Regions from separate parts of the Homo sapiens genome. Here region 1 is linked to region 2. Evidence: fine-mapped QTL for protein levels in blood plasma. Region 2 holds a variant in brackets. A gene starts in the other region. All regions are shown on their reverse strands.

Region 1 (10,893 bases), not on the chromosome of region 2:
TTCCTGCTGCGTTATCCTAACCACCCCACCCCACCAGCTCAGTTTGACTCTTGTCGGTCCACGCACTAGAACAAACTATTCACAAAGGCCACGGCTGTGATGGCCTGGCTTAACCCCACGCACAAAGGTGGCTTGTCACTGCATGAGCATCTCTGATTCAGTTTATACTGAAAGCACCATACAGAGCACTGGACTCAGCCTTTGGTGACAAGGACTGTAGCCCTGGGTCTGCTACTTACCCTCTCGGTACACATCCTGTTCTGCAGAATGGGACTAATACAGTCTGCCCTACAGGATGGCTGCAAGATTCAAACACGCTAGTGCATCTGGTGACCTACAAAATGCCACGCAGGTGCAACGTGGTATTAACCAAACACCAATAGTTAAGATGCTGGCCCAGAAAGTGGGCACGATTCATTTAGTTTATTGACCCTGTCAGGAAAAGGAGGGCCCCATGATGGGAGACCTAACTGACCCTGAACCAGGTATCACCTTTCAGCGGAGGCCCTGTGACCCTGACAATCGCCATAGCCATCAGTGAGCCTGCGGTGAGCCAGACCCTACACTGGATCTTTCACACATTCGCTAATTTAAGCAACACGAGAACCCCGTGTGGGTGTACCCAGTTCACTGATGAGGAAGCGCTCAGAAGGTAGAAGCCCTGCCCAGGACTGTGCAAACGTAAAGCCAGCGTCAGGGCCTGGCCCATCTCAACAGTTACTCCCCACTGTAGAATCAGGGTGGGAGCTGGGGGGCTCTCCTCAGCTGTAATACAAGGATGTTTCTCACACCAAACCTTTGTATGAATAGATTCAGATAAAAGGTCAGCCCACTTGCCTCAGGCCCCCTAGTCTGCCTACTTCTTGTCCTTCCCTCCTTTTTCAGCAGCAAAATCCCCTTTAAAAAAAAAAAAAAATCTTTGATCATACTATGTAACATAGAAGAAAGTGAAACTGCTTTGGTTAAAGGTGAGGACAGAGAGGCCATGGCCTGGCCCAGTCAGCCTCCAGTCAGTCCACAAAGCCCAAGCCTTCTGAGACCAACATGAAAACAGCTGCTTCCTTCCTTCCCTTACTCAGAAAAGCAAAGCCCAGGAAGGCACCTTCACGTGCACTACTGAGTGTCGAGTTCTACAGTGAATCCTTGAACCATATCCACGTCTGCCTCCCTGATACGCTCTGTGCTCCTCAAGCCTGGGCCTGGGCTTCCTATGGTGCCAGCTGCTGTCGCCAAGAAAATACCGAGAAGGAACTAGTCCCGTGTCACTCTGGGTTGGTGGTAGGTTAATGGGTCCCTGACTGTGTGCTCTATTTTAACTCCCACCACCAAGGATTGGTTAAGATAATTATGAAGTTGGCACCATAATAGTTGTTTATACTTAGAGTGGCAACACATTAACCATTCCTGGGTAAGAGGAGACCCCAAAATTTATTACCACAAAATAGCCTAGTCAAATAGAAATACTATCTGTAAAACTTGCCGGGCAGTTGTCAAGCCCAAATGAGATAAAAGTAAGGGAAATTTAAAAGGCATAGAGCTCTGGTTAGGGCCAGATGGCGCTAGCAGCCATATGTTTTTAATCCTTTTGCAAAAACAAAGCAACTGGGACAGCAAAAGAAACCCACAGACCCTAGAACATGGAGCAGGCCAAAGCCTTCATAGACACAATACCTCTGAGAGATCAGCAGGGTGAAGAAAAGGGAGTTTTTATGGTGCTATAAGCCAGAGACCCCAAAAATTGCCATCAAATACTCATCCATTCTGAGTGCAAAACTCAGCAAGCCACTGTGAAAACAACTCCCAAAACTAGAAGATTCACAGGCTTCCATTTACAAGTGAGCCCAGAAACACTAAGGGGAGACCTTCCACTTCTGCATATAAAGGATTAACGATTGTAAGAATTTCCCAGCCAACATGGTGGCTCACAACTGTAATCCCACACTTCGAAAGGCCAAGACGGGCGGAATGTTTGAGCCCAGAAATTCAAGACCAGCCTGCCAACATGGCAAAACCCCATCTCTACTAAAAATACAAAAATTAGGTGCAGTGGTGTGTGCCTCTGTAGTGCCAGCTACTCAGGAGGCTGAGGCACAAGAATCGCTTGAGCCCAGGAGGTGGAGGTTGCAGTGAGCCGAGATTGCACCACTGCACTCCAGCCTGGGCAAGAGAGTGAGACTCTGTCTAAAAAAAAAAAAATTTCCCTGGCTGGGCGCAGTGGCCAGCACTTTGGAAGGTTGAGGGAGGAGGATCTCTTGAGCCCAGGAGTTTGAGATCAGCCTGGGCAACACAGCAAGAGCCTGTCTCTTTAATAATAAATAAGAATTTCCCTCACACTATAGACAACTAGGAAATTAATTCAAGATGGATTAAAGACTTAAACGTTAGACCTAAAACCATAAAAACCCTAGAAGAAAACCTAGGCATTACCATTCAGGACATAGGCATGGGCAAGGACTTCATGTCTAAAACACCAAAAGCAATGGCAACAAAAGCCAGAATTGACAAATGGGATCTAATTAAACTAAAGAGCTTCTGCACAGCAAAAGAAACTACCATCAGAGTGAACAGGCAACCTACAAAATGGGAGAAAATTTTCACAACCTACTCATCTGACAAAGGGCTAATATCCAGAATCTACAAAGAACTCAAACAAATTTACAAGAAAAAAACAACCCCATCAAAAAGTGGGCGAAGGACATGAACAGACACTTCTCAAAAGAAGACATTTATGCAGCCAAAAAACACATGAAAAAATGCTCATCATCACTGGCCATCAGAGAAATGCAAATCAAAACCACAATGAGATACCATCTCACACCAGTTAGAATGGCAGTCATTAAAAAGTCAGGAAACAACAGGTGCTGGAGAGGATGTGGAGAAATAGGAACACTTTTACACTGTTGGTGGGACTGTAAACTAGTTCAACCATTGTGGAAGTCAGTGTGGCGATTCCTCAGGGATCTAGAACTAGAAATACCATTTGACCCAGCCATCCCATTACTGGGTATATACCCAAAGGACTATAAATCATGCTGCTATAAAGACACATGCACACGTATGTTTACTGCGGCACTATTCACAATAGCAAAGACTTGGAACCAACCCAAATGTCCAACAATGATAGACTGGATTAAGAAAATGTGGCACATATACACCATGGAATACTATGCAGCCATAAAAAATGATGAGTTCATGTCCTTTGTAGGGACATGGATGAAATTGGAAATCATCATTCTCAGTAAACTATCGCAAGAACAAAAAACCAAACACCGCATATTCTCACTCATAGATGGGAATTGAACAATGAGAACACATGGACACAGGAAGGGGAACATCACACTCTGGGGACTGTTGTGGGGGGAGGGGACGGGGGAGGGATAGCATTAGGAGATATACCTAATGCTAAATGACGAGTTAATGGGTGCAGCACACCAGCATGTCACATGTATACATATGTAACTAACCCACATATTGTGCGCATGTACCCTAAAACTTAAAGTATAACAATAATAAAATAAAAAAATAAAATAAAATAAAATAATAAATTTAAAAAAAAAACAACAACTAGGAAATCATGAAAAGTACATGAAACAACTACTGCTTTCAGACATAGGACAACAGGCAGTGTTTGGGAAAAGGGAAACAGGTAAGCACAACAAATGCACCAGGTTACTACTACCCAGAAGCAGTTTCTGGGCCAAAAGGTAAAGAGAGACTCCAGAGTCTAGTAGTCTCCAGGAGTTGAAGAGACAGAAGTCAGAGTTCAGGAAGACCAAGGCAGGCCGGGCGCGGTGGCTCACGCTTGTAATCCCAGCACTTTGGGAGGCCAAGGCGGGCAGATCACCTGAGATCAAGAGTTCGAGACCAGCCTGGCCAACATGGTGAAACCCTGTCTCTACTAAAAATACAAAAATTAGCCGGGCGTGGTGTTGCACCCCTGTAATCCCAACTACTCGGGAGGCTGAGGCAGGAGAATTGCTTGAACCAGGGAGGCGGAGGTTGCAGTGAGCAAAGATTACACCACTGCACTCTGCCCTGGGCGAAAGAGCAAGGCTCTGTCTCAAAAAACAAACAAACAAACAAAAAAGACCAAGGCAGAACTGAAGGCAGAAGAGGACGAGAGGAGGAAGCTGCACAGAGCAAGCTCCTGAGAGCTGAAGAGTCTCCTGGAGTCTTTGGACAAGTACTAACCTTCATATATGAAGGGTGAAACCAATAGACCAAGCAGCTGGAGCTCACATAGGGGTGGGAATAGCCCATGTTCCCAGCAACCAGAAAAAAAAGAGACATTCCATCCAGAAGAACAAATATAAGAGTGGCAGCAGGCCAGGCGCCGTGGCTCACGCCTATAATCCCAACACTTTGGAAGGCTGAGGCGGGTGGATCACGAGGTCAGAAGTCCGAGATCAGCCTGACCAAGATGGTGAAACCCCATCCCTACTAAAATTAGCCAGACATGGTGGTAGGTGCCTGTAATCCCAGCTACTCGGGAGGCTGAGGCAGGAGAATTGCTTGAACCCGGGAGGTGGAGGTTGCAGTGAGCCGAAATCACGCCACTGCACCCCAGCCTGGGCGACAGAGCAAGACTCTGTCTCAAAAAAAAAAAAAAAAAAAAAGGAGCAGCAGCCAACTTCTCATCAGAAAGTAGGCAAACCATAAGAAAATTAACATCTTTAAAGTACTGAAAAAATTAAAAAAAAAAAAACCTGTCAGCCTCAAATTCTATACCTAGTGAAAATATATATATATTTTAATACAGACTCTTTCAAATAAAAGCTGAAAGAATTAATCACCAGCAGAGCTGCCATTACAAGAAATGTCAAAGAAGTTTCCTTCAGGCAGAAGGAAAATACTAGATGAAAAACAGGCTGGGCACAGCGGCTCACACCTGTAATCCCAGCACTTTGGGATGCTGAGGCAGCAGGATTGCTTAAGCCCAGGAGTGTGAGGCCAGCCTGACCGACATGGTGAGACCTTGTCTCTACAAAAAAAAATACAAAAATTAGGATTTACAAATACGACTTCAGGCCCAGCGCGGTGGCTCATGCCTGTGATCCCAGCACTTTGGGAGGCCAAGGCAGATGGATCACTTGAGGTCAGGAGTTCAAGACCAGCCTGGCCAACATGGCAAAACCCCATCTCTAGCAAAAATACAAAAATTAGCTGGGTGTGGTGGCGCATGCCTGTAGTCCCAGCTATTCAGGAGGCTGAGGCAGGAGAATTGCTTGAACCCAGGAGGTATGGGTTGCAGTGAGCCAAGATCACGCCACTGCACTCTAACCTGGACAACAGAGCAAGACTCCATCTCAAAAAAAAAAAAAAAAAAAAAAAAAAAACAAATATGACTTCAACATATTGCAAATACCTTCAACAACTCCGATATCCCTTTGCAAATATCCCTTTACAGGCTGAGGTGGGAGGATCAGTTGAGCCCAGAAGGTGGAGGCTGCAGTGAGTTGAGATCACGCCATTGCATTCAACCACAGGTGACACAGTGAGACCCTGTCTCAAATAAAAAAGAAAAGAAAAATGGATCTGCACTAAGGAATAAGGAGCAACACGATAGTAAATACCTGAGTTCATAAGACTTTTTCTTAATTTCTTTAATCTGTCTAAAAACTTTGGCTATTTAACATGCATTGTGGGGCTCATACCTTAAGTAAAAATAAAATGTGTGACAATAATATCACAAAGAATAGAAGTGGGGAAATGAAAGCATTCTGTGGTGCAGTTCTTACACTATCTGTGAAAGGATATCGTAGTTGTTGAAGGTATTCTGCAATATGTTGAAGTCATATTTGTAAATCCTAGAGCAACCACTCAAAGAATAGAACAGTACAGTATAGCTAATAAGCCGACGGTGAAGACAAAATGATACCATTCAAAACCCTCTAAAAGTGGTTATGACAAGAGAAAGAAAAGGAAGAACAGATGGGACAATGGAAAAATTGGTGACTTACAAATAGTCTGGAGATTAACAGTAATGTGCTAACACTGGTGTTTTAATTTTGATAAATGTACTACGGTTATATAAGATATTCACGAGTGGAAACTGAATTGGGTTATTCAGAGAGAAAGATTTCATCTTCCATATGTTTATATTTTCTGCTGGAAGCAAGCATTTATAATCAAAATTTACCTGGGATACTTGGTAATTTATAATCAAAATTACCTGAGATACTTGAAACAGATTCTAAAGCCCCCACGCCAGAGCTACTGGATCAGAATCCAAGGATGGAGTCTTATAAACGTGCATAAAACTTATGAAGCTTTCCTCATGAATCCAACACAACCCAACACAGGTCTGTATCTGGAAATTGAGACGAGATGGCCCTCCAAGCCACGTCCCACCCTGAGGTCGTCCTATGGCTCTTAGCGGTCCATAGACTAAAAGGCTGGATGATCAGCAACGCTGAGACAACAGTTTCAGTACAGCAGTGGGGATGAGAGGCAAGGTCAAGTTTTGAGGGGCCAGGACACAGCAAAGAAGAGGACACAAGGAAAGGGGAAGGAAATGGAGATGGTAACACGAGGGGAGGGTGGGATCGGTGCACAACAGACGTTTTCAGGATTAGGAACCTGGGTGTATTTTAAGGCAGAAAGCAGAAGCCACTGGAGGGGAACAGAAGACACGAGAGAGGCAAAGTGTTAGAGCTTTGGCCCCAAGATGGCCGGAGGCTAGGGAAGCCCCAGTGAGAGAGGCAGAGCTTGGCGAAGAGGAGGGATGAGAGAGCATGGCTAAGGTCAGGGAGGATTTAAGAGCGATGGCCGCCTATCTAGAATGAGCCGCATGTGGCTGCTGAGCATTTGAAACATGGCTAGTCCAAATTGAAATGCACTGTAAGAACACACACTGGATTTCAAAGACTACACATCTGTAATCCCAGCACTTTGGGAGGCAAAGTCAGGCAGATCACTTAAGCCAGGAGTTCAAGACCAGCCTAGGCAACATGTCAAGACTCTGTCTCTACAAAAAATACAAAAATTAACTGGGTGTGGTGGTGTGACCTGTAGTCCCAGCTACTTGGGAGCCTGAGGTGGGAGGATCATCTTAGTCCAGGGAGGTGGAGGCTGCAGTGAGCCATGATAGTGCCACTGCACTCCAGCCTGGGTGACAGAGCAAGAACCTGTCTCAAAAAAATATATATGTATATTCATTTAGACATATGCTGTTGCACACTTAGACTATAGTATGGTATCAGCATACGTTTTATATTTACTGGGAAACCAACAAAATTCGTGTGACTTGCTTCATTGTGGTCTGGGACCAAAGCTGTAATGCCTCCAAGGTATGCCTGTATATTTCTATTGCAAAATGTGAATCTCGAAATTATAAAAGCTACAACTAGGACAAAAAGCAACCCCACCAAATAGCCCTATATCAAAGAATAAAATCTCTTTCTAGAACCCCAGAATTTGCCTCTTTCAGACTGAAGTTTAGCCAAATCTATGAAAAAAGAGCTTGCTAAACCAACTAATTATCAGTACAAATAAAATTATAATGAAAAGTCTATGAAGATAATTTGTTCTCAGATGCCCTTCACATATAGCAATTAATTCACAAATGATGAGTCACTCATGTGCCTTCATGAAGGCAGGCCCTCAAGAGACCCGCAACAGAAAGGAAAGCCACCGACTGGAGAGAACCTGCTTCCTGAGCCCCACCAAGTTCCAAAAAGGAGAATGGGGCTTCGTCCTCACCCTCAAGGAGTTGCCAAACTGGGCTTGGTTATTATTCACACTTGAAAAGAATGAGGAAGGTCAGCCAGTCCCCTCCAGGTCGCTCGGGCTTCCTCCAAGCTCCTCTTGGTTCAAATTTGCTGTGTCCTCCAGCCGGCATCTCTCCTCTGTTCCGTAACTGACAGGGCAGCGAGGTAGCTTCCGGATGACTCCTCCCGCCATGGTTCTTCCGTCCATCAGCTCTTCCTTCCTCAACTCTGTGGTATGTGGCTAGGGGAGTTTCCAACTCCCAGGGGACATTTCAGTTCCCCAAAGATAACACAGCTTTGCACAGTGGATGTTTACTTGCTGGTGGTCTTATCTAAGATCAACATTGGCAGCTGTGCCCGGAGAGGCCTCCAGGGTCCAGGTAAGTGGAGGCTTCATGTCTCAGGAGGTACCTGGTCACCACAGTTAGGATTTTTCTGTTTGGGGATTTTTTTTTTTATGGGTTGGTGGCTCTGAAAAAGCTGCAAGTCTTCTCTGAGGACTACAGACCTCTCTCCACCCTCTCCACATTCAGCCTCTCTGGGCTCCAGGGCCAAAAGATGTCTACACTCAGGTGGCAGACAGGCCTGTGAAGACCTCCTGGTGACATGCTCATATGTTGCTGGGACTAAAGGTGGGATTTTAGCCACCACAGTGGGTTGGTGGTGAGATGTTTACCAACAGGAGGTACTTTGTCCCTCATGTCCACTTAAAGATTCAGTCCAACCCGGCCTGTGCTTCTGCTGTCCCAAGAGACTCTAGAAAGCTCCAATCCTCCCTGAGGTTGATCTTTTAAGTCAGGGTAGGTGGTCATTCGGCAATCAACTGCTCTACTGCCTCAATGTCCTCCTCACTGGACGTCCTGCCCCAATTCCATCCTGTTCAGCGCAGACTGATTTTCCTGGAACACAATGTTCATTATGGAGCCAGATGGCATATCAGAAAGAGCACTGTATTAGGAGTCAAGAGATCCATGGGGGAATCCCAGCATTGCCCCTGATGGCTGTATAGCTTTGGGGAAAGTGAGGCCCTCTTGGCATTCAGTTTTTCTTCCAGCGAAATAAAGGATTCAGCCTCCCAGAGCTTTAAAGTCTTTCCAACTCTTTCATTCATTCTATGGTCTCTCTCTCCTCAAGAATCCTCAGTGGCTGCCCTCCTGCAAAAAAAGCCCAAACTTCTTGGGCTAGCAGTTCCCAAGGCATCCATCACCTGGCCCCAAACCACCTTCTTATGTTTTTGTTATGACCCCATCGCCACCCTCCCCCAAGCCACCCAGCCTTCTCCATGCTGCCCTGATGTACTCTACCCACGCCTTCACCTCCCCTCTGCTTGCCGCAAAGCCCTCCCTCCAAAGCCCTGCCCCGAGTTCACCACAGGCCTCTTTCCTGGAGCCTTTGCTAACATCCCTGCCGCAAGCCCCAGCCTAAGGTGAGCTCCTCTCCTGAACTGCTAGAACTTCTCTGCAGACAACTCATTGGCCCTTAGGGGTTCCTGCCTGGGCACCCAGTTGGATGAAGCACTCCAGAAAGGAAGAAATTCCTGGGGCCGAGGGAAATGAGGCAGTGGCCTTGGCCTATGCTGGGAAGTCCTATGGGCCTGGTATGAAACCATTGTCATCTGCAGGGTGTTTCACAGGTTAGAAGCCACTTTCCCCCCATCGCCTCATTTCACCCTCAAAGACTCTGGGTAAGGGGAATTATTTGTGGTCGGCGTAAGGCCAGTCAATGAGAGAGGAGCCAGGCCCGTGCTAAGCGTAGATCTTCCACCTCCAGGTCCAATGCACTTCCCTCTCAGAAGAGGCATCCGCTAAAATAGGGACCAAAGCTGCTGGAGGGAGGCAAGGCAAGCTGCTATGTGAAAAAACGCCAGGCCAGGCAGTCATGTCACACCTGGCAGAAATGACTGAAGCATAGCCACTGGCTGAAGTTATCCCCACACCCACTCTCTGGAGAGGATGATCAGGAGCAGTCTGCTCAACCGGGAGGTGGGACTCCTCCTCGGGAAGGTGTAGAATCACCAGCCTGGCTCCCTGCGGACTCCCGGGGCTCACAGAGGCCAGAGCAGCAACAGCACATGGGAAACAACGGGGCGCTGGACTGGGGAGGTCTCAGAGCTCTCCTAGTGATGACAGCCTCATTTTACCCAGGGAGAAAGGGCGAGTAAGCTAAGGTCACACAGCAACAAAGCTGCACCCAGACCCCAGAGCCACTCTCCTCCCTCCCTCCTCCACCAGGGCCATGCCCACTTGGGGCACCCCGCCACCGTGTTCCAGGGACAGCTGGAGCACATGCTTCTTCCCTCGCCAACCCAGCAATTCCGCAGGGCATCTGACCTCCACTGTTGACTTCTACCCAGAGGACAAGAACATTTTTAGTTCCCAAGGAATGTACATCAGCCCCACGGAAGCTAGGCCACCTCTGGGATGGGGTTGCTGGTTTAGAACAAACGCCAGTCATCCTATATAAGGACCTGACAGCCACCAGGCACCACCTCCGCCAGGAACTGCAGGTAAGCTCTCTCTACTCTCCGTGTGCGTTTGCTGACAGGTTTATTGTCCGTGACTGCTGCCCGTCCGTTTAACCTCTCTGGGCCTCAGGAGTCCCCTCTAAACACGGGGGATGTCGGACTGTCTGGCTGGAAGACAGAGCTTCATTTAGGAGCTACCTCTAACCCCCTCCCTGCTGAGTGCCCTGGGGCCCTTGCTGGTTCAGCTTCCTCCCTCCTCATGAAAAGACTCGCCATGAGCTCTCAGAGCCTGGGACAAAAGGCACCGGGGAGGACCCCCAGCCCCTATCAAGTCCTGCTGCCAGGTGTTCTGCCCTGAACGGCCTTGGAGAAGAGAACACACATCCATCATCTTCTACCTTGGGAGGTGGAAGCGGGGGTCCTCTCTACACAGCAGTCAGGACCCCAGATGGTAAAGCCCTTCACGCCATCTGCTGGGCTCCTACCTGAGCAAGCTCAGAGGCACATGAGAAGGGGAGGCAGCTGCCTGGAGACCCTCTCTCCCCCAGGCCCACCTGTCTGCAACCCAGCTGAGGCCATGCCCTCCCCAGGGACCGTCTGCAGCCTCCTGCTCCTCGGCATGCTCTGGCTGGACTTGGCCATGGCAGGCTCCAGCTTCCTGAGCCCTGAACACCAGAGAGTCCAGGTGAGACCTCCCCACAAAGCCCCACATGTTGTTCC
Region 2 (10,389 bases):
TGGGGGCTGTGTCACAGGCCATGGTCCCTCATATTTGGCTCAGAATAAATGTCTTCAAATATTTTACAGAGTTTGGCTCTTGTTGACACAGGGGACAGCCTCCCTGGGGAGGAGACCCTGTTGGACGGGCCTTCATTTATGGGGCATTCAGTGTGGGCTGAGCCCTGGGCTAGGTGCTTTACCCTCAGGACCTTGAGTGACCCCCTCAGCTTGGAACTTTAGCTGCAAACGAGTCGGGGAAGTGCAGCTTTTAGCAGCCTCTGCAGTAGCAGGAGGCAGCGGCTAGGCCCAGGGCTGTATGGCCTCTGTTTGCCCCAGATCCCCTCTCCGTCCTGCTCCATGTCCTGGGAGGCTGGTCCAGCTCCCACAGGCAGGAGATGAGAGAGTGGAAGAGGCAAGTTCAGGCCAGCTCTCCTGCCAGTCAGCTGGGAGGTGGTGGCAGTGGCTATGGCCCTCTAGAGCAGGCCCAGCCCGCTGGGCGGTGGTGGCAGTGGCTATGGCCCTCTAGAGCAGGCCCAAGCTCTCATGCCAGTCAGCTGGGCGGTGGGTGGTGGCAGCGGCTATGGCCCTCTAGAGCAGGCCCAGGCTCTCATGCCAGCTGGCTAAGTGTTGGTGGCAGTAGCTATGGTCCTCTAGTACAGGCCTAGGCTCTCCTGCCAGCCGGCTGAGTGTTGGTGGCAGTAGCTATGGTCCTCTAGAGCAGGCCCAGGCTCTCCTGCCAGCCAGCTGGGTGGTGGT[A/G]GCAGTGGCTAGGACCCTCTAGAGCAGGCCCAAGCTCTGCTGCCAGTGGCTGGGTGGTGGTGGCAGTGGCTATGGCCCTCTAGAGCAGGCCCAGGCTCTCCTGCCAGTGGCTGGGTGGTGGTGGCAGTGGCTATGGCCCTCTAGAGAAGGCCCAGGTCCCGTCAGCCAGGCTTCTCCTGTCCCCCGGGTTCTGGCCAGCCTCTGGTCACTGTGCTCTCCCCCTCATCCCTGCAAGCCCGAGGGGCTGGTGGCTTCCTGCTGCTGGCTGGCTTTGAGGGGGACTTGTGGCCGCTGCTGTCTCCTTCAACCTGACCCCTGCCTTTGTACATGGACCCTGAGTTAGATAACTCTGCCTGGCAACCCTCTTGGGTATGCTGTTGTTCCTGCCGGAAGCTGGTAGGTCCACTGTGGTCCGTGGCCCTGCCTGCTGCCGAGTGTGTGTCTGGAGGGAGACCGGCCCCTTCTCCCCTGACGCTCTCTCGTCCCCGCTGATGGTTGTCCGGCCTTCATTGTTACCTCCTCTCCTCGATTTTGCCCCTGAAAAGGCTCTGGCACATTTTAGGGGGTGGTGAGGATGTTGCAGTCAGGAAAAGTCTCGGGGAATCGGACCCTCTCCCAGCAGGTCTGCACCGTCCAGGAAGGCCTGCACCGTCCAGGAAGGCTGGTAGATGTTTCTGGGGTGTTCAGGGGACATCAGCTTCCCACTGTCTCACCTTGAGTCTGGGATCAAGGTGACACTACTGATGGGGGCAGGGACGATGCAAGACCCGACCTCCCTGGGACTCAGTGGCACCAGGAATCTGCCTTTGGGCTTCCCCCGGGGCTCCAGGTCAGCCCCTGTCCTTCTGAGGTCTCTCCTGCCTGCCTCCCTGGAACCCACTGGGTTGGGCTCTTTTCCATGGAAATTGTCTCTTCTCTGGCAAGTGAGGAGCCTGAGCCCAAGAGGGACAGGAACTTACTGGAGGCCATGCAGGGTGACTGCAGCCTCCCCCAGACTCCTTGCTTGCCCACTCTGCCCACCCAGAACTTTCCCTCTGGACACGCCCTCCAGCCCATGTCCTGTAAGCTCAGGACAAGGGGCCTCATACAGTCATGAACTGCTTCCGTGTGTGGCTGACAGCCCCTGTCCCATCCTCCCTCCGCCCCCCGCCCCAGCTCGCCCGGACTCTGGCCACTCCCGCACAAGACGTTTTCTTATCTGTCTCTGTGTTCAAGGTGCCAGCCTGGAACTTTCCGTCCTCAAATATTTATAGGTGTGTAAGTGTTTGTTGATCTGATTTGATACACAGTGATTGCTGTAAGGCAGTGGTTCTCACGTGGGTGACTCTGCACCGCCAGGGAATGTTTGGTGATGTCTGGAGGCATCTCTGCTTATTCCAGCTCAGGGGTGCTGCTGGCCTCTAGTGGGTGCAGGCCAAGGAGGGGGCAACACACAGGATCCCCACCACAGAATCCGCAGCCCCAGCATCCGCCGCACTGAGGGTGTGGCTGGTCTGAGGATGGCCCCGTGGTCATGGCTCCTATACGGAAGACCATGGCTGTGACATTCCTAGAGCCCCACCCCTGACCACAGGTTGGGTTCTGACCTCACCCCAAAACTGAGCCCTCACTGTGGTCAGTCTGAACTCTAATCCTGGTTACCTAACGAGCCCTGGTTACGGCCCCACCCTGAGCCCTGGCCCTGGCCACTGGCTGAGCCCTGATCCTGGTCACAGAATGAACCCTGACTGTGGTCACCCTCTGATTTTTGACCCTGGTCACAGGCGAATCCCTGTCCCCTGTCATTCACACTTTGGCCATACACTGAATGCAGCCCCTGAGCCTAAACTGAGCCTGGATCTTCTGGCAGTTCTCCTTTCTGGGAAGTTCTGCCACAAGGGGCATGGCTTCCTGCAGATCCTCATCCGGTGGACAGGGGCTGAGAGGCTGATGTGAGTGATAATAAAACTCCAGTCTCCCGGTCAGCTGGCTCTGTGTGAATTAAACTCTTTCTCTATTGTGATTCCCCTGTCTTGATAAATCGGCTGTATCTTGCCAGGGGTCAAAATGAACCCCCTGGGTGATCACACACTAGTGTATTTTCTTCCTTCTCTTCCTCTCTTTCTGATCCCTCCCCAGTGCCAGAATGGACTTGGTCTTTGAGAAGAGATCCAAGGTTCCCTGAGTAATGGTAGGAGCACCTGGGGGAGCCCCATGCATCTTGGGGATCAGGCCCCAGTTCCGACCCCAGTTCCATGCCAATCTCCACTCCCCACCAGCAGCACCCAAGTCCTGGGAGACCAAGTGATCCCGTCCCTGAGGTGGTAAGCAGTCACACCAGGGATGGAACCAGCCTTCCTGTCCCAGGAGACCCTGCCTTGGGAACCCCCATCCAGCGGCCCTGGGTTCTAGTCCCACCATGTGCCTGGTATGCCCCATGACTAAGCGTCCTCCACTGTGAAACATCTGACTCTAGCATGCTCAAATTCCTGACCCACAGAATCATGTACAATAACAACAGTTAGTGTGGCTTCAGTGTGACTCACCCTTGGCCTCCTTCCTCTTCTCTGCCAGTTGCCTCCAGGGACTCCAGATTTTCCTGTTTGCTCTTGGCCTTCTGCCCACCCACCCCACTGCCATGGGCCCAAAGCAGCCGGGTTCCCTGGAGATCCTGTCTTCCACCTAGTGCAGGGCATGAGGCCGGGGCCAGGACAGCCGGACCAGGCCCTGGGGCTTCTGGGAGCTGACTCACCTTGCAGGGAGTCCCACCACCACCTTCTGGGGCCCCACACGGTCCCATGCTGGAACACACATCCCTGTGTGTAATTTTTTTTATTTCATGCAGCATTAATTAAAAAAATAAAGATAGCATGTCACTTGCAAAGCCACGCTGGTGTCAGTTTTTAGCATCTTTGCTTTGGAAAAACGCCCTTGCAGATCAGGAGGAAAACCCACTGATGCACATGGGTTGGCTGGGGGCACTCAGTGCCAAGCCCCCATTTGGGTTCTGGAAATTAAGGCCATGACTTGCAAGCTGTGTGTGTGTGATATGTGACTGTGAGGGTTTGTATGTGCCAACTATGTGGGCATGGGAGTGTGCCACATAGTGTGTGTGAGAGTGTGAGAGAGGATGCTTGTCTGTGCATGTGGATCAAATGTGCAAATGTGTGGCATGTGTGTAAATGCAAGTGAGTGTGGGTGTGTGCACCGGTTGTGTGTTGTGTAAGCAAAAGCATGTGTGTAAATGTGGGTGTGTTGGGGCCACCAAGTCCTGAGGGCTGTGCAGCTTGGAGCCCCTCAGAGGCGTTCTTCCCCAAGCCCACCCAGCTGGGGCCCACAGGCCCTCCCCATCTCTAACTCCCCCAGGGCCCTGTGTTCCCAGAGGAGGTGCCTTTTCCTGGCTCTCACAAAGGCGTCATCAGGGCCCTGCCCCAAACCAGCTCCCCTCCTGCCTGGGCACTAAGGTGGAGATGGGCACTGCCCCAGCCCCTGCCCCACCAGCCAGGCCCCTTGGCCTCCAATGACCCTCAGAACCACCCCCACCACTCTGCACCCTCTGCTCCTGCCACTCCCCCTTCCTGGAGTGAACTCAGACTGGGGAGGAGACCCAAGGCACACCCTTCCCTTCCAGCTGGGCACAGCCTCACCAGCACCCCCAGCCACCCCTGCTATGAGAGGCCTGTCATCCAGAGACCTCCAGAAGGAGGGCTGGCTGGGACTGCCCCAACCTGAGGCCTCCGGCACCTGAGCAAAGGACACTGCCGGATACAAGCCCACCTCCAGGCAGAGGGAATAGCAGGCACGGGGGATGACCCATGGGCTTCGGAGAGGACAGTGAGGGGTTAGCTCCGGCGTGGCCTTGTGGCCCAGCGAGGACCTGAGCTGTATTCAGAGTGCACAGGCTTATTTGGGCAGGGGGAGTGACTGGCCCTGTCAAATGCCACTCTGACTGTGGGTGGAGATGGGGAAGCCAGTGCAGAAGCAGGCTGCTGTAGTGGCCCAGGCATGGTCTGGAGGCTCCGCTCAGTAGGGAAGCAGGCTGGTGCAGTGGCCCAGGCATAGTCTGGGGGCTCTGCTCTGCGAACTTGGGGCATGGCTGGGGGAAGGGAGTCCTCAGAGCCAGCCCCCAGGAGACACTGGAAACTGCCTTTGTAAAAGTTTTAACAGTGAGAAAATGGTGATGGTGAAGGAGATCTGATCTAACCCACAGCCAGTTAATCTCCAAACTGCCCTTAGTCATTTCTGGGCATAACAGCCCTTTTCCAAAACTCAGCCATCTTTGTAAAGCTAACGAAAGGCCACCACTGCATGAGGAAGATGAGGGGATCTGCGCTCTGCTGAGGTTAGACTGAAATGATTCCCAGCCGTTATTCATTAGGAAGATGGGGGATCTGAGCTCTGCTGAGGTTAGACTGAAACGATTCCCAGCCGTTATTCATTAGGAAGATGAGGGGAGTCTGAGCTCTGCTGAGGTTAGACTGAAACGATTCCCAGCCGTTATTCATTAGGAAGATGGGGGATCTGAGCTCTGCTGAGGTTAGACTGAAACGATTCCCAGCCGTTATTCATTAGGAAGATGGGGGATCTGAGCTCTGCAGAGGTTAGACTGAAACGATTCCCAGCCGTTATTCATTAGGAAGATGGGGGATCTGAGCTCTGCTGAGGTTAGACTGAAACGATTCCCAGCCGTTATTCATTAGGAAGATGAGGGGATCTGAGCTCTGCTGAGGTTAGACTGAAACGATTCCCAGCCGTTATTCATTAGGAAGATGGGTGATCTGCGCTCTGCTGAGGTTAGACTGAAACGATTCCCAGCCGTTATTCATTAGGAAGATGAGGGGATCTGAGCTCTGCTGAGGTTAGACTGAAACGACTCCCAGCCGTTATTCCAGGGACCACAAGATTTGCAACTCCCCCAATTACTCCTGCAAGTAACATCACTATTGTGATCCTAAGATTGGCCTTGTGAGATGTCGTTTCAGGTTTTTGCACGTCTAATGACTGATGGATGGCTCTAGCGAGGCCCACCAACCCCGCAGCCGGTCCTGTGGCCCCACCTGGACGCAAACTCAGTGCACAGGAGGACCATTTTCCACATCCCCAGCCAACCAGCAGCACCCATTCCCTGGCCCACCAGACTCTCCTTGAAAAACCCTAGCGTCCGAATTTTCTGAGAGGCTGATTTGAGTGATGATAAAACTCTGGTCTCCCGTTCAGCTGGCTCTGCATGAATTAAACTCTTTCTCTATGGCAATTCCCCTGTCTTGCTAAATCAGCTCTATCTTGCCAGGGGTCAAAATGAACCCACTGGGTGATTACACGCTAGTGTATTTTCTTCCTCTCTTTCTGACCCCTCCCAGTGTCAGAATGGACTTGGTCCTCGAGAAGAGGCCCAAGGTTCCGTGAGTAATGGTAGGAGCACCTGGAGGAGCCCCATGCATCTTGGGATGAGGCCCCAGTTTCATGCCAATCCCCACTGCCCACCAGCACTGTCCAAGTCCTGGGAGACCACGTGATCCCATGTCCCTGAGGTGGCAGTTAAAAATAGGAGTTAAAAATAAATTATTTAGGCAGATAGTGAGGGTAAGGAAGTCCTCAGTAAGGTTTTCCTTTTAATGAAAAGCAGGCTCCAAATCATTTTCTTTTCTAACAAAGAGCAGCCTGTAAAATCGAGCCGCAAACATAAGACAAGCAAGCTGGAAGCTTGCACGCGTGAATGCCAGCAGTTGTGCCAATGGGAAAAAGCTACCTGAGACTAGGCATGATCAAAATGGCAGCTCCATCTTCCCTTCTCTTTGCCAGCCATGTGTACAGCAAGGAGCAGACAAGATGGTGCTGGCCAAGTAGAAGCCCATTTGCATAATAAGATTAGGGTGGGGCGACCAGCCTTCCCCACGCCATATGTAAACATCACCCTTGGTCATACCAATCTGTGGGCCCTTTGTAAATCAGACACTGCCTCCTCAAGCCTGCCTATAAAATCTGCTGGGGTCTGCTGCAGGCTGGCTTTTCTCTTTTGGACGCCTCTTTCGAAAGAGAGGGCTGCTCTCTTCTCTCCTTTCTTCTGTCTATTAAACTTTCTGCTCCTTAACCCATCTACATGAGTCCATGTCCTTAATCTTCTTGGTGTGAGACAATGAACCCCAGGTATTTACCCCAATGATGCTGCTTCAGCAGCAGAGTCGCACCAGGGATGGAGCCAGCCTTCCGGGGGAGGGAGGACTTTGCTGTCCCAGGAGACCCTGCCATGGGAGCCCCAGTCCAGGGACCTTGGGTTCCAGTCCTGCCATGTGCCTGGTATGCTCCGTGACTCAGCCTCCTCTGTGAAACACATCTGACTCTAGCATGGCCAAATTCCTGCCCCACAGAATCATCTGCAATAAAAACAGTTGGTTTCAAGCTGCTAAGTTTTGGGCGGTTTTTGATGCAGCAGTTGATAGCTGTATGGGGGTAAGGGCAGAAACAGAGACTGGGGAGGAGGCAAGACCACAGAGGTGTGGATTGGGGAGGGCAGTTGGAGGGAGTGAGAAGAGGCCAAACACTGGCTGGATTTTGAGGGTAGAGGATCTGGATATGAGGGATGGAGACTGTTGAGGCTGAGCCTGAGTGAATAGCAAGGTGAGCTGCCGTTCATGAAGGTGGGGGCAATGCAGATGGAGCAAGGCTGGGCTGGAGGATCAAAGCTAAGCAGAGACATTGGCTAGCACATAGGAGTCTGGATTTCTGGGGAGGGGCCCTGGCAGGAGACATGAATTTGGTCGTTGCCAGTGTTGGATGGTATTTAACGGCATGACACTGGAGGAGATCACCCAGGGAGTGGGGACTGGTTGAACAAAAAGAGCCAAAGAATGGCCTGGTCAGTAAGGAACCAGCAAGGGAGGGTGAGGAAGAGAAGAACCAGAGGGTGGGAGGGTGCTGGGAGCCCAGGTAACAACGGACCTAAGGATGAGTGAGCTGGCACATGGGCTCGTGCCTGGAATCCCAGCATTTTGGGATCGCTTGAGTCCACGAGCTCGAGACCAGCCTAGGCAACACAGCTAGACCTCGTTTCCACAAAAAATTAAAAAGATAGGTGAGACAGTGCATGCTTGTAGTCCCAGCTACTCTGGGGGTTGAGGCAGGAGGATCCCTTGAGCCCAGGAGGTTGAAGCTGCGGTGAGGAGAATGTACCACTGCACTCCAGCCTGGGCAACAGAGTGAGACCCTACCTCAAAAAAGGAAAAAGGAGGAGTGAGCTACCCAAATCTGTATTTGTTTATTATTGCTGTCCTAACAAATTACCATAAACGTGGTGATCCAAAACAATACAAATTTATATCTTACAGCTCTGGGTTCAGAAGTCTAATGGCACAATGAGTGTCATGGGCTAAGATCAAGGGGTCAGCAGGCTGCATTCCTTCTGCTGGCTCCAGGAGAGGCCCTGTTTCCTTGTCTCTCCCAGCCACTAGAAGCCGCTCATAGTCCTTGGCTTGTGGCCCCTTCCTCCATCTTCAAAGCACATCACTCCAACCCCTGTGTCTGTTGTCACATTTCCTTTTCTCTCCTCTTTCATCCCATTGTCCTCTCACTTGGCTTCCTAACTCCCACAAGAACCCCTGATATGGCACCTGCCCTCCTATCTGAACCCGTGGGCTCTGCATCCAGATGGAACCAACCGAGGATACAAACAATTCGGAAAAAAACCTGTGTCTGTACTGAACATGTACAAATTTTTCTCTTGTCACTATTCCCTAAACAATACTGTATAACAACTATCTACATAGCGCTTACATTGTATTAGGTATTATAAGTAATCTAGAAGTGACTTAACGTATACGGGAAGATGTGTGTAGGTTATATGCAAATACGAAGCCATTTTATGTAAGGGATTTGAGCATCAAGGATTTTAGCATCCTTGAGAAGTGCTGGAACCAATCCTCTATGGATACCCAGGGACGACTGCACATTGGGCTCACCCTGATAAACATAAGAATCTCTCCACCTAAAGAATCTTAACTTCATTGCATTTGCAGTCCCTTTTGCCATGTAAGTAATGTATTCACAAGACCTGGAAGTTAGGATGTGGACATCCTTGGAGGGCCATTATTCTGCCCACCACAGTCCACCCTCCAGTTTCCAAAATTTGCATAGGTCCCATGGGCAAAATCCACGCACCCATCTCAAGGTCCTCCACAGCCTCAACTCATTACAGCACCAACTCAGGTCCATACTCACTTAAGTCGCACCCAGTTCAAAAGTTTCAAATCCCATCGTCTGAATCATCTAAATTGGGTATGGATTGGACCCCAGCTAAGTAAGGGGGTCAAGCAGGCGGGCTGAGCACTGGTCCTGGTGACCGGAAGGCAGCACTGCCCTCCCCGCATCAGAAACTGCACCGGGAAGACCGTCCTGGGCTGATCGGCACGAAACCCTGGGCGCCTGTGGCTGCCCCAGAACTGCAGGAGCCCCAACGCCTTCAGCGCAGGGTTCACTGTCATGAAAGGAATGTGACGCCCTGCGCCCATTCTACAGATGGAGAGAGCAGGGCGGAGCCCGGGGCCCAGGCCGCGCGCCCCGCCTTCGCCCCGTTTCCCCTCTCCCCTCCCTGCCCGCGCCTTCTCCCCTCCCACGCCTCCCCCCACCCTGGGACCCCCCCACTCCTCTCCTCCAGGCCTCCTCTCCTCCCACGCCCTCCGCGGCCACCCAGCTCTTTGAAAGCCTGCGTCTGGCTCCCAGACACCACCGAGTGCTGAGTCCTCCAGCCTGTCTAGAGCGTCCCGGAAGTAGCTGGGGGAAGGCGACGAGGCGCGGACTGGAGGAGAACCGAGTGGCCGGCACTTCCGGCCGGCGGCGGCTGCTCCGGGTGAGCAGGGTGAGTAGGGTCCTGGCCTGAGGCGCTGGGCGGCCGGGCCGGGCCGGATGGGTGCGGGCGCTCTCCGGTCCCTGGTGGGCGCGGGCGGCGCGGGCGGGAGCCGCAGTCTGGGCAGGCGGGCGCGCGGGGCGGGGCGGGGTTGGTCGCGAGGCTGCGGGGCCGGACCCAGCCGCGGGCGGCAGCGCCCCCTCCCGGGAGCCGCGCTCGGAACCCGAAGCCCTGTGCTTCCCGCGCGACCCCCGCGGCCTGAGCGCGCGGCCCCCGAGCCGCACCCACCCCTTGCCGCCAGGCCTGGCCTTGACGCCCCAGCCCGGACCCTTCCTGCGCTTCCACTCTCAGAGAGGCTTGGTCACGAGGTCCGCTTGCCCTTAAAAAACCAGACCGAGACTTTTTTTTCTCCATTTCTGTTTTTGTTCTTGTTCTTGTCCCAGACTGAATTTCTACCCACAAACGGGGACCCTGGGGTACGGACGCTTTTTAAGCGAGCCTCGCCAGTAGCCCAGCGCTGTCTCTGCGCCAGGATCCCCCAGCGTGGAGGGCTCCTAGCGGAACTCGGCGCCGGCTCTCGGGCGCTCTCTGCGGGGCGCACGGCCCCAGGCTTTCTGTCCCCTCCTTCTCTGTCCCATACTCTCCTTCTGACCCCCAGCTCACCTCTTCCCCCAGCTCCAGAATGCGACTTGTTTTTTGAGTATTTCTCCTTCATATCCTCCATACCCCCCAACACACACACGCACACACACACACACACACACACACACACACACACACTATGCCCCTGCGAAGGTTGTTTCCCGCTTTCCCCCCGCGTTTCTCAGGGCCTC

Which allele goes with the higher level. Positions count from the first base shown, and alleles are read on the strand shown. Strength reflects both the effect of a copy and how common the allele is.
With allele A in place of G in region 2, the plasma level of the protein whose gene starts at base 7,984 in region 1 is lower (weak association).

What was found. A credible set is the group of variants that fine-mapping cannot tell apart. PIP is the posterior inclusion probability: the model's chance that the variant is causal. Protein levels are from antibody-based Olink assays in UK Biobank. Linkage for the fine-mapping came from a reference panel and not from the study's own genotypes, which makes the PIPs less certain.
Region 1: it holds the start of GHRL, and the variant in region 2 is the best candidate, but not a certain one, in a credible set for the plasma level of the GHRL protein (UK Biobank, PIP 0.60).

What each region holds. Positions count from the first base shown.
Region 1 is chr3:10,290,038-10,300,930 of GRCh38, reverse strand. It overlaps GHRL (ghrelin and obestatin prepropeptide), which reads left to right and starts at 7,984. Exons shown (of 6, transcript NM_016362.5): 1 at 7,984-8,089; 2 at 9,480-10,215; 3 at 10,722-10,858. The coding sequence starts at 10,751. GHRLOS (ghrelin opposite strand/antisense RNA) reads right to left here. Exons shown (of 6, transcript NR_073568.1): 6 at 7,482-8,863. RefSeq lists enhancers at 7,792-8,086, 7,897-8,146, 8,157-8,226, 9,738-10,340.
Region 2 is chr8:142,669,111-142,679,499 of GRCh38, reverse strand. JRK (Jrk helix-turn-helix protein) reads left to right here and starts at 9,533. Exons shown (of 2, transcript NM_003724.4): 1 at 9,533-9,568. It also overlaps a transcript of PSCA not described here. RefSeq lists silencers at 9,187-9,336, 9,587-9,876 and an enhancer at 9,337-9,486. The variant A/G (reference allele first, on the strand shown) is at 739.